3 linked regions of the Homo sapiens genome follow. The protein of the gene in region 1 purifies or fractionates together with the protein of each later gene. This does not show direct contact. Each region holds a gene or a part of one and is shown on either strand. Other genes may lie near its edges.

Region 1 (3,073 bases):
TAGTCCCATGACTTCGATAACTGAAAATGTCCTGGGTGTAAACTAACCCAGGAATGTGGATCATACATGTTTTTTTTAAAAAAAATCCCTGAATCAATATTTTCCTACAACACACCCTAAAATTCCTATTTTTGTAATTAATGGTTGGACAGTGATCAGCCATTTAAACATAGGCTTTCTGGAATAACCAGACACTAGAATAGTTTCCAAAGTGTTTTGCGTATCAAAATCCTATATACTTAGAAGAAGAACTCAGGATAAGAAAAAATCGCTAGGTCCCAAAGGGTTCATGACTATCATCAGATGCAACTGCGAGTGGCCTACGGTCATTTTTTCAAATGAGAAGACTGGAGAGAGAGAACAACAGTAATCACAAAACCTCTGTTGCCCTTAGTCCATGACAATGTTTAAGGAAACTTTAAAAAATTAAGCCATCTTCTGAATTGTTTTCTACACCAAATCTAAAATATTAAAATGAAATTATTAAATATTTAAAATGGGGTATTTAGTGGAAATGCAATCAGTAGAAAACATTGCTTTTTAGTGCCTGCTAAACAAGTAAAGGAGAAAGAATGAAGAGAAAACAGCAGTCCTTCCTGTGTGACACTCGTGTGGAAATGACAGGCATTCACATGTCATTGAGTGCTAACTCAAAAGCTAGGTGGCAATGCTGTCCAATGTTTAGAGATCTTTTGAAATATAATTTTACCACCATTCAGAGGTAAGTACTTGCTTAACAGAAGTCTTTAATGTTAGTGAATGAATGTATAAAATTATAAACTATGCATTTTCAAAGAGTAGCATGTATTTTGTATCGAATCCAAGTAAATTTTTTTCATAGCTACCTACCACAACTGCAAATTATTCAAAATAAACTTGGATACATATCCTTATGGGGATATGGGAAGCCCATCTATATTCTCCTACTTGATGTTTTTAAAGATTGAAACTTTATTCTGAAACATCAGGCTCTAAAAAATTCCATCATTAAGATGAATAAATGGGAAATGGTTTATTTGTTACTTCGTAAGCATAAATGGGAAATGTTGGCTGTTAGAAAATGTGCCCAGTTCTTTAAAGGTGGATGTTCTAGTAACACTGGATTAACAAGCAAACAAAACTGCATGAAGTGAACGAATATTTCATTGGATAAAGTTAGCATAGGTTTTATCTGCTGGGTTTAATTCTCAATCCCAGAAAAAAATATTCTTCAAGGGGTATCAGTTATAGTTTCAAAGAACAAAATATGAAAATATTGTCCAGCAAAGCAAATCATTGATCTTTTTTCAAAATTACTTATATTTTGGAAAGTCTATATAGAATATCCACAAATTTCTTCAGCCCTCTTGTTGATTTCATATTTTCATGAAACTTTTTCCCCTAATAATTTGTCTTCGCTCTTTAATCAGTGCTTTACTACATTACTCAGCCTGAAAAAATATCTTTTCCTTCATCTGACAATGTGGAAATAAAGAACTCCATTTCTGTCATTCTGGTTCTCTTCAGTGTCCATTGAGAAAGTTTCTCAACTGTTTGTAAAATACGGGGGGAAAAAAACACGCATTTCTAAACCTGGTACTTAAGGTTATACTGGATTGTTTGCTACCTAATTAGAAGTTATTGGGGAAGGGGCATTGTGTCTTTTTATATGATTTTTAGCCAAATCCAGATGTTCTGATACACATTTCTGAATACCTGTCTGACTGTAAATACAGCCTGTGGAGGTTCAGGTTGATAAACCTTTCACCTGACTGCTCCACAGCCATGCTCCTTGCCAGCTTCTGGCACATTGTACATAGATTTGTTGAATGTTTAAATGATGTTGTTTTTCTAAATGCTGTTCTCTAAAACAATTTTTTGAATTTCTTTTGCTTTCCATTGTTTTGGACTTTGTGTGTTCGTTTTTTAAAAAAAAAAATGTTTCCTAAATATTTAACACCAGGAAAAATATTTTTAAATACACTGGTGCTAATTGAAACAGAAGGAAATTTTCAGATCGAAGATGTACAATGTTAAATGTTCATACCAGTTAAACTGCACTTTCCCAAGGGGACAGCTGGCATCTACTTGAAATGGGCATCAAGAGACCACCAAATGTTTACAGTTTCTGTGGCCCGTTTAAGTGTAAAATGCAGAAGTGGCTCTGTCCCCCCAGAGTTAAGGATTTGCTACACTGGTCCTCTGGAAGCATTTAAGTAGAAGAAAAGGCTTATAGTCAGAATCACTTTAGTAATCGTCTTCTGGTCCTTGGACTTTTCTGTTCTGTAATGCTTGTAACAATGAATATGGTGTTGCCAATCTAGTCTGATATCATTGTTGACCTGTACTTACTTTGTGGATGGTTCTACCTGGGGTTGCACTGGCACAAACAGAGCCAGAACACTGGACTTTCAAAAGACCATTTTGACTTCTACAGTGTCCACACACATGAATTTAAATGCACTTGTAACTGGTTAATTACCATGAAGTAAGTCTAACTTCCACTTAATAAAAGTTTTTGTGTATCTGCTTCTATTCGGAGACCAATTTATTTAATTAAGGATAACTATACCAAGAAAGTCTCGCTGGGGCTTGGGGTTTTACCTAGAGTTGTAAAAATAGTTCAAAACCAAGGAGATGTCTTCATCATCAAGGCCATTTTTAGAAACATGTGGAAGGCATGTGTCCTCAGGTTCAGCCCTGCTAATGACAATTTCAACCCATTCCCTTAGCAATGATTGTCCAAATATGTTAGCTGCTGACCCTGTGCTGCTGACTGTTGTCCCAAGCAAGTAGGCAATGTGGCAAACAGAGGGAAAATAATACCTATTTTGAAGCTAAGCCAGCCTGGAATTGTCATCCTCAGGCCTCGGGCTCCCGAAGGTGGGTTTCTGCAAAGTTGACTTTCAGTGCCCACATGTTTGCCGTGGAGGAGGGATGGGCATAGCAACCTCCACATACTGTGCTCAGACTGTAAGTGCGCCTCTCCCAAGCCCTCTGCTCCCAGGCTCCCAGAGGCCCTCCAGGTCTCAGTGACTGGGACACGGCAGAACCCTCAGGGGCAGGGCAGCCGAAAAAGATATTGAGAATCTGG
Region 2 (3,657 bases), on another chromosome or scaffold:
TCAGGTACCAGAAGTGCTCGCAGCAATATACCAGACAGCTCACCTCTGTCAAATGGAATGGAAGGTGCTCAATTTTGAGGATGGCTGACTTTAAAAAAAATCAATAACATAAATAATAAAACTTCCATTGTGTGAAATATTCACAGTACAGGTTGAGTATCCCTTGCCCAAAATGCTTGGGACTAGAAGTGTTTTTGGTTTTTGATTTTTTTTTTTTAATATTGCATATACATAATGAGATATCCTAGGGATAGGACCCAAGTCTAAACATGAAAATTAGTGTTTCTTATACACATAGCCTGAAAGTAATTTTATACCATATTTTTAATAGTTTTGTTCATGAAATAAAGATTGTGTTATTTGAACCATCAGAAATCACAGGTATAATTGTCTCAGCCACCCATGTGAACAGTCTGTGATTGTTTGGCATCACTGTTATTCTTGACTCTGAATTTATATGCCAGCTACTGATAAGCAATTTTCTTACACTTATTCACACATAATTACATAACAGTAAAACATATGACTTACAATTAATACAGTGGAAAAATTGTGTGGGGAAACTAAGCAGCAAGGTAGCATCACTAGAATACCTGTATCAGCTGCTAAACAACAGCAAAAACAAACAGCAGGCTTTCAGTCTCCACCTACGATGCTGTGTTTTCATTAAAAGGTTACCCGTACACTAGCTTGGGGTTGCTGAAGAAACTGTTGTGCACCTGTGTTTGGATGCAATGTGTCCCATGAGGTCAGGTCTGGAATTTTTTACTTGTGGTGTCATGTTGGTGCCCAAAAAGTTGTGGAATTTGCAGCATTTTGGATTTCAGGTTTTTGGACTAGGGGTGTTCAACCTGTAAATCACCTAGGATTTTAATCTCATATGATTTAAACTATAAAATTTGATTTGAAGAAAATATTTTGCTGTATCATTTTTATCTAAAATTTAGTGATGTTTTCATTTAGGAATACTTTTTCTCATAAGTATCTTGAAAATAATATATTTTAATAGAAGGTGAATTGACAATCCATGCATCCTAATGTGTGCTACACTTTCCCTCAAAGCCTGTACCAGTGTATCCTATAAATTCAATGCTGTTCATCTGGGATCTTTCAGCAAAGCTGAGACCATGTGGTTCTAAGAGAACACAGACTACTGTGGTGCAGGCATGTTTTATAATGAGTATAGGTGAACATATTTTATTCTGCTTGTACTCGTTTCCCCCACTTTTCTACCTCTGTATACTTTTAAATGTAATTAAGAAATTTTAGGCTGAGTGCAGTGGTTCATGCCTGTAATCCCAGCACCTTGGGAGGCTGAGGCAAAAGGATCACTTGAGCCCAGGAGTTCCAGACCAGCCAGGGCAACATAGTGAGACCCCATCTTTACAAAAAAATTTAAAAATTAGCCAGGCATGGTGGTGTGCACCTGTGGTCCCAGCTACTCAGGAGGCTGAGGTGGGAGGATTGCTTGAGTCTGGGAGGTCAAGGCTGCAGCAAGTGTAATCACATCACTGCACTCCAGCCTGGGTAGCAGAGCAAGACCCCACCTCACTCTGTTGCCCAGGCTGGAGTATAGTGGCGCAATCTCAGCTCCCTGCAACCTCCACCTCCTGGGTTCAAGCAGTTTTCCCACCTCAGTCTCCCAAGTAGCTGGGACCACAGGTGTGCACCACCATACCTGGCTAATTTTTGTATTTTTAGCAGCAATAGGGTTTTACTATGTTAGCCACGCTGGTCTCGCACTCTTGACCTCAAGTGATGTACCCGCCTCAGCGTCCTGAAGTGCTGGAATTACAGGTGTGAGCCACTGTGCCCGGCCACCAAAAAAGAAATTTTAAATGGTTGTCTTATATAAAAATTTCTCTTCTTTCAAGAAAAAAGCTATACTGAACTACATGTTTGCTATTAGTCCATATGGTGCTTGTGTGCAAATTATAAAAGGACATCCTTCCTCTTTACTGCCATCTGCTGACAAATGTTTAAGATGTCCACAAAGTGAAAGGTACCCTCTTAGAAGGCATACCTGTGTGCAGTGTCCAGTCTATACAACTACATACCAGCCTTATTAAACTACCACTGAAAGGGATTTTTTAAAACATGAAAATGAATTCTACATTCTGTTTATGATAAAACCACAAAATAAAACTGTATACACCTTTTCACTAAAAAATTCATGTTTGCAGTTTTGAACTTCTTGAGGATTTGAGCACCATGTGGACAATATTTTTATATTTTTTAGATCCTATACAGTCTTAGAACCCTACTTTACTATTTTACAAGTTCCCTTACAGGGAACAATTTTTGTTTCCTGTACTTTCTTGTCTGTTAAGAATATTTAAAGTTTTGAGGATTCCAATTGCCCATTTTAAAAACTTTTCTTGCTGGGCACGGTGGCTCATGCCTATAATCCCAGCACTTTGGGAGGCTGAGGTGGGCGGATCACTTGAGGTCAGGAGTTTGAGACCAGCCTGGCCAACATAGCAAAACCCCATCTCTACTAAAATACAAAAATTAGCCGGGCGTGGTGGCCTGCGCCTATCCCAGCTCCTCAGGAGGCTGAGGCAGGAGAAATGCTTGAATCCAGGAGGCGGAGCTTGCAGTGAGCTGAGATCACGCCACTGCACTCTAGCCTGGGCAACCAAGTGAGACTATGTCTCAAAAAAAAAAGAAAAGAAAAGAAAAAACCTTTTCTTTCCACAGTTATTTTAAGTAGAATGTCATATTCCTTTCTTAGGGTACAAAATGCCCATCATCTGTCCTTCCTAGATACTATCTCAAACCACTTAACAAATTAACTTCATGTCTAGGATGTCTAGGTACTAATCTTTTGATCTTTTTTAAGGACTATTGTACCTAAATATGATACTGGGGAATGTTGCAAAATAGCTTTTCATATAGATTTGAGTTAGTAATATGCAACGTAATATATTTTTGCTTGGAGCTTAGTTTCCCCTCCCCCTCAAATTCTTGGCACAAATGTTATGATTTGTTTTATTTCAGAAATTTCTACAGGGAGGTATTCAGAGGTACATGATTAAAGATTTTTATTGTTATTTTTGGTAAGATTTTTATTGTAAAATTACATTGGTAATATAAAAACCTGTATAATATAATAATATTTCCTCTTACAGACTCTTGTTCATCTGATAGTGAAACAGAAGATGCTTTAGAAAAGAATTTAATAAATGAAGAACTTTCTCTTAAAGATGAACTAGAAAAAAATGAAAATTTGAATGATGATAAGCTAGATGAAGAAAATCCAAAGATTTCTGCACATATATTAAAAGAAAATGATAGGACTCAAATGCAGCCTTTAGAAACCCTGAAGTTAGAAGTTGGAGAGAATGAACAAATAGTACAGATTTTTGGGAACAAAATGGAAAAAACAGAAGAAGTTAAGAAAGAAGCCGAAAAATCTCCAAAAGGAAAGGGAAGACGAAGCAAGACAAAAGATCTTTCTTTAGAAATTATAAAGATTTCATCATTTGGCCAGAATGAAGCAGGAAGTGAACCTCATATAGAAGCTCATAGTCTTGAATTGTCTTCATTAGACAATAAAAACTTTTCTTCTGCTACAGAAGATGAAATTGACCAATGTGTGAAAGAAAAGAAGTTGAAACGGAAAATACTAGGACAATCATCGCCAGAGAAAAAAAT
Region 3 (4,136 bases), on another chromosome or scaffold:
GCCTGGCATATATACAAAGTACTCAGGAAAAGGCAGACTATGACATCAAGGGCAAGCCCCACTTGCCTTGGGAACAATGGGGAGGGTGAGCAGGTTGACCTGAATCTGTTTTTCCCCTCCCCAATTAGTCATATCCTTTGCTGCTAGCTCTTTGCATTCCTGGTCAATCCCTAGCCTATACCAGGTACCTGGCTCTTCTAGAACAACCATGGAAGGAAGCAGCTCAAGAGCTTGAAGGTTAAGGTACTTAAAATAGAGAAAACTAGTTGGGAGGAGTAGCTGAAAGTCTAAGGGGCTTGTGGGTTCTGGGAATGTTATTTCTTGATCTGGATGCTATAATAGTTACATGGATGAATTCACTTTGAGAGATTTCAACAACTTCTACAATTAAAACTTGTGCACATTTCTGTCTAATTCAAACATTTTAAAAACAGAAACCACCCCTCTCCATCATCTAAAGCATAAAGCAGTCTTTCCCAAAGGGGTGCCATAACTGGGTCACAGGTCGGTCACCTGTGGCAGCACGCAGGCTTGTTGGCTGACCCCGGGAGCAGTACAAATACCATCACTGTTTGGTTAAGATTGGTAGGCACTATCTCAAAAGCCAGGAACAATATCCTCCTTAATCATGCACCAAATGAACAATATCCTCAATCACAAGTTTATTTCAAGATTGTTTTTCCACCCAAGATCCATTCTATTCACTTGATTTTTAATGACTTTTATCTGCAACAAGAAGAGTGCACAAACATTTAAGGGTCAACACCCCAGATTGCTCTTTACAAAACTGAGTATTAGCCTGACATCATTCTGTATCTTAGTCTTCACTAAGAATTAAATGTCTAGAATATCCCTTCCTCTGCCCTAACTTCCTTTCCCCATAAGCAATGGATCAAAAACCTAAAATAAATTTCTATCACTTATCAAGTCAATGGATACAATACAGACTTCATGCTGGTTTTCTCTTTGAAAGTTTATTGTTTTCTTTAAAAAAAAAAAAAAACCTATACCTTTTATATTTTACATTCACCTCTCAGAATATTTAATGGTACCCGTTAACGATGTTATAAAAAAAGACCATCACCTGCTTGAAATGGCTGCAAATTTACCATGTTCTGGCATTAAAGTGATTTCAACTCTTTGGACAAATTGGTGTAACAGTAAGCACCGAGATTTCAAATTCCCAGATGAGAAAAAAAAAATTAATCAGGAGGAAATTTATTTAGTAAAAATTCAAAGCTAAAGAAATGTGAGAAGGAAGCCAAACCCAAAAAACTGTAAAAAATACAATCTTCTCTCCAGAATTAGGTTAAAAAATACAGTCAACCCCATTCTAAACCCCATATTTCTTAGAAAAGTCACCCAGTCCTGAACACAGGGTCTTATACACAAATACATGTAGCTTGATTTGCAGATCAGCCTCTGGGATCGACCTTACACTGGCCCCAATTAGAAGTTCAAAAACAAAAATTAAGTTAGGTAGTCAGACATCTATAAATACTAGTATCCGCATGAATGAAAACACCCTGGCTTTGGTATGGCTACAGAAATCCATCTGGAAATTATTCAAAAGGACGTGGTTCAGGGAAAAGGGGGTAGGCAGGGCATGGGGGGAGGGGAACACACAAAACCCCCAAGCAGAGGTAAAATGAATATTGGAACACACCCGCAGCAAACACTGTACATAGACTTGAGGCAGATGCCTCTAACACAACACATATACAGGTTCTTGATCAAAATGGTCTGGACCAACCTTTTTCAAAGTAATCACCTGCAGGAAAGAGTTTAAACTTGGAAATTCATCTGGTGCCCTGGGGTCTAGTGAGAAACAATGACCTTTTGGAATAATGGCCACCCAGGCTAGAAGCTAGCCTCCTTCTCGTCTAGAAACTTCAAAGTCTGTCTTCCCCTTTAGTAAGGCTTCTGCCCACCACAGAAGTACCCCCATCTACTAACAGGAAGGCTGCTTCTGTTCCTGGTCACCACTGAGGCCTGTCAGGCTTCAACTGCTGATTTTTCACCTCTGGGGTGACAAAAGAAAATATTAAGTCCTCTGGGATTAGAAATGTAATTTACTATGCTGATTCTCAAAATGGACTTCTCACCTGCCCCCATTTTCACTAGGCCCAATTAAGAGTTGTGAGGACGCCGAGGAGAAGGCAATGGCGGAGTCGAGACTATGACTAAGGGCGCCCTCAATACCCTCAAAAGTCAGAGAGGAGAGAAGGCAAAAGTGCCCATACCCTGGTCTTCAAATAAATAGTTGCTTCACAAAAGCAGAGGTCCCACAGAGAAGGCCAGAAAAAGAGGCAATTTGTTCCTGCTTCAATGCGGAACCCCAGTGGTTATCAATACAATCCTCAACTATAAAAACAAACTTTGGTATACTGTTTAGGAGGACAAAACACATGATCATTGAAAAACTCCACCTTCAATGGAAAAATACATGAAATATATCTAATTTCCATCGCAGGGCACTACATGAAAACCAACAGCTGCACAATATGTGATGTGACACACACATCGTATGTGTAACAGTTCAAGCGAGGGAAGTCCTGCCTCACAGTCAAGGCTAACAAACAAGAACAGGTGAAGCCTGTGTTTACCATGGGCTGGGTTCACTGTAGTAAACATCATAGCAGTCGGGGATTGGAGGGCAGAGAAGAAATACAGAACCCCAGGCAACTTTTGATAACAGCGTCATTTATCCTGTTTTCTAAATAAGACTCCAACACCAGAAAAAAAAAAAAAAAAGAGGAAAAAACGGATTGTAAGTTAAAACAAAAATCTATCTGTATAAGTCTTTACTTGTACAAGTCTGTACAAGTCAGTAAGGTTTGGTCTCTGCAGAGCCAGAACTTCAGAGAAGGTGATTTAATTGTCATCACAGTCCCCCCAACTTGCTTGGGGGTATGTACATCAAGAGACAACATGAAGAGAATCACTTGAGACCAAAAGAATTACTTACAAAGAAAGATTTCCTAGGATGTGTAAGTTCTACTGATTGCTCATAGAGACGCTAACAGTTGCTCTAACCCCAAATTTTTTGAACATCTCAAGATGGCAACATGAGTATAGAAAACCCCAACACTCATCACCCAATGAATCATTTCTCCAATCATGGGAGTGAGGGAAGGATGTAGGAAAGGCTGTTTCATCAGGACTCATTAGGGAGGGTGTCAGTCCAGAGGCAGCCACAGCAGAGCTTTCCTTGTCTTCAACCTGGGCCAAATGAAGCTGTGAGCGCTCAGGGCCTGACAACAAAGTTCTCCACAGGTTTGGAATGGCCAATGTGCAATAATGGCATCAGCCACAAGAGTGAAACTTGAATCGTGCATGAGGGTCTATAGATCACTGATTATTGCACTATCAATCTCACCTCCCACCCGTAAAAGATTACCCAGATAATCAGCCTGTGGCACATACTTACTACTACCTACTTGGGAACAAGGGAGAGGAAGGAATTACAAATGAAAACTTCTGAAATGACCACTGCTTATTCCAGCTTAAGCTAGAACAAATGTTTGAATAAATCACCTGCATTAAATAACATTTAAAATATGGTACCTTCAGCACATTATAAATATGAAATGTCCCCTCCCCCAACCCCATTTACTTCAGTGCACATAGTCTTCCAGGCAAGCTTTTCCATCGCTCAGCGAGCGGAATGGATGGTGTGCACAGATGTTACACAAAGCATTTATTTCTCTGAGAAGGCCGAGAGCCACGAGAATTCATCATCTCCTGCTAGGACCTCTGCCCCAAGCTTCTGGGCAAATAGTGAATTGGACGCGACAGGGAAAGTAGCTACGTGATCCACTAATCAGATTCAAAACATGAAAATGCACTGGAGAGTGTATCCCTTCCTGCTCTTCTCCATGGTAGAGAGACTTAAAGATAATCAATAAAAATAGCTGTCCCTTCAAACTCAGAGGAGGTTTTCAAAAACAAGTATAAGCAAAAAATAAAGAAATAAAAGGAAAGTAAATCAAACCCCCCAATACGCCTGAAAGTAAAACAGTCTCATGGTGACTGATGTCTGGAAGAAGTTGAGGCAGAAAAGACTGACAAAGTTGGAAGCATCCGGCCACAAAAGTGCCCTAAAGAATTCACTGCAGTGCTCTCCATTTCCAAGG

The links.
Region 2: the proteins of ZNF704 (region 1) and ARID4A purify together in Homo sapiens (co-immunoprecipitation; 3 studies listed by BioGRID and IntAct, with this or other methods). This does not show direct contact.
Region 3: the proteins of ZNF704 (region 1) and SUDS3 purify together in Homo sapiens (co-immunoprecipitation; 3 studies listed by BioGRID and IntAct, with this or other methods). This does not show direct contact.

The regions. Positions count from the first base shown.
Region 1 is NC_000008.11:80,627,892-80,630,964, reverse strand, and holds the end of ZNF704 (zinc finger protein 704), read left to right. Parts: 3' UTR 1-2,514; downstream 2,515-3,073.
Region 2 is NC_000014.9:58,361,039-58,364,695, forward strand, and holds part of ARID4A (AT-rich interactive domain-containing protein 4A), read left to right. Parts: coding exon 1-4; coding exon of another isoform or gene 5-64; intron 65-3,131; coding exon 3,132-3,657.
Region 3 is NC_000012.12:118,414,545-118,418,680, reverse strand, and holds the end of SUDS3 (sin3 histone deacetylase corepressor complex component SDS3), read right to left. Parts: 3' UTR 648-4,136; downstream 1-647.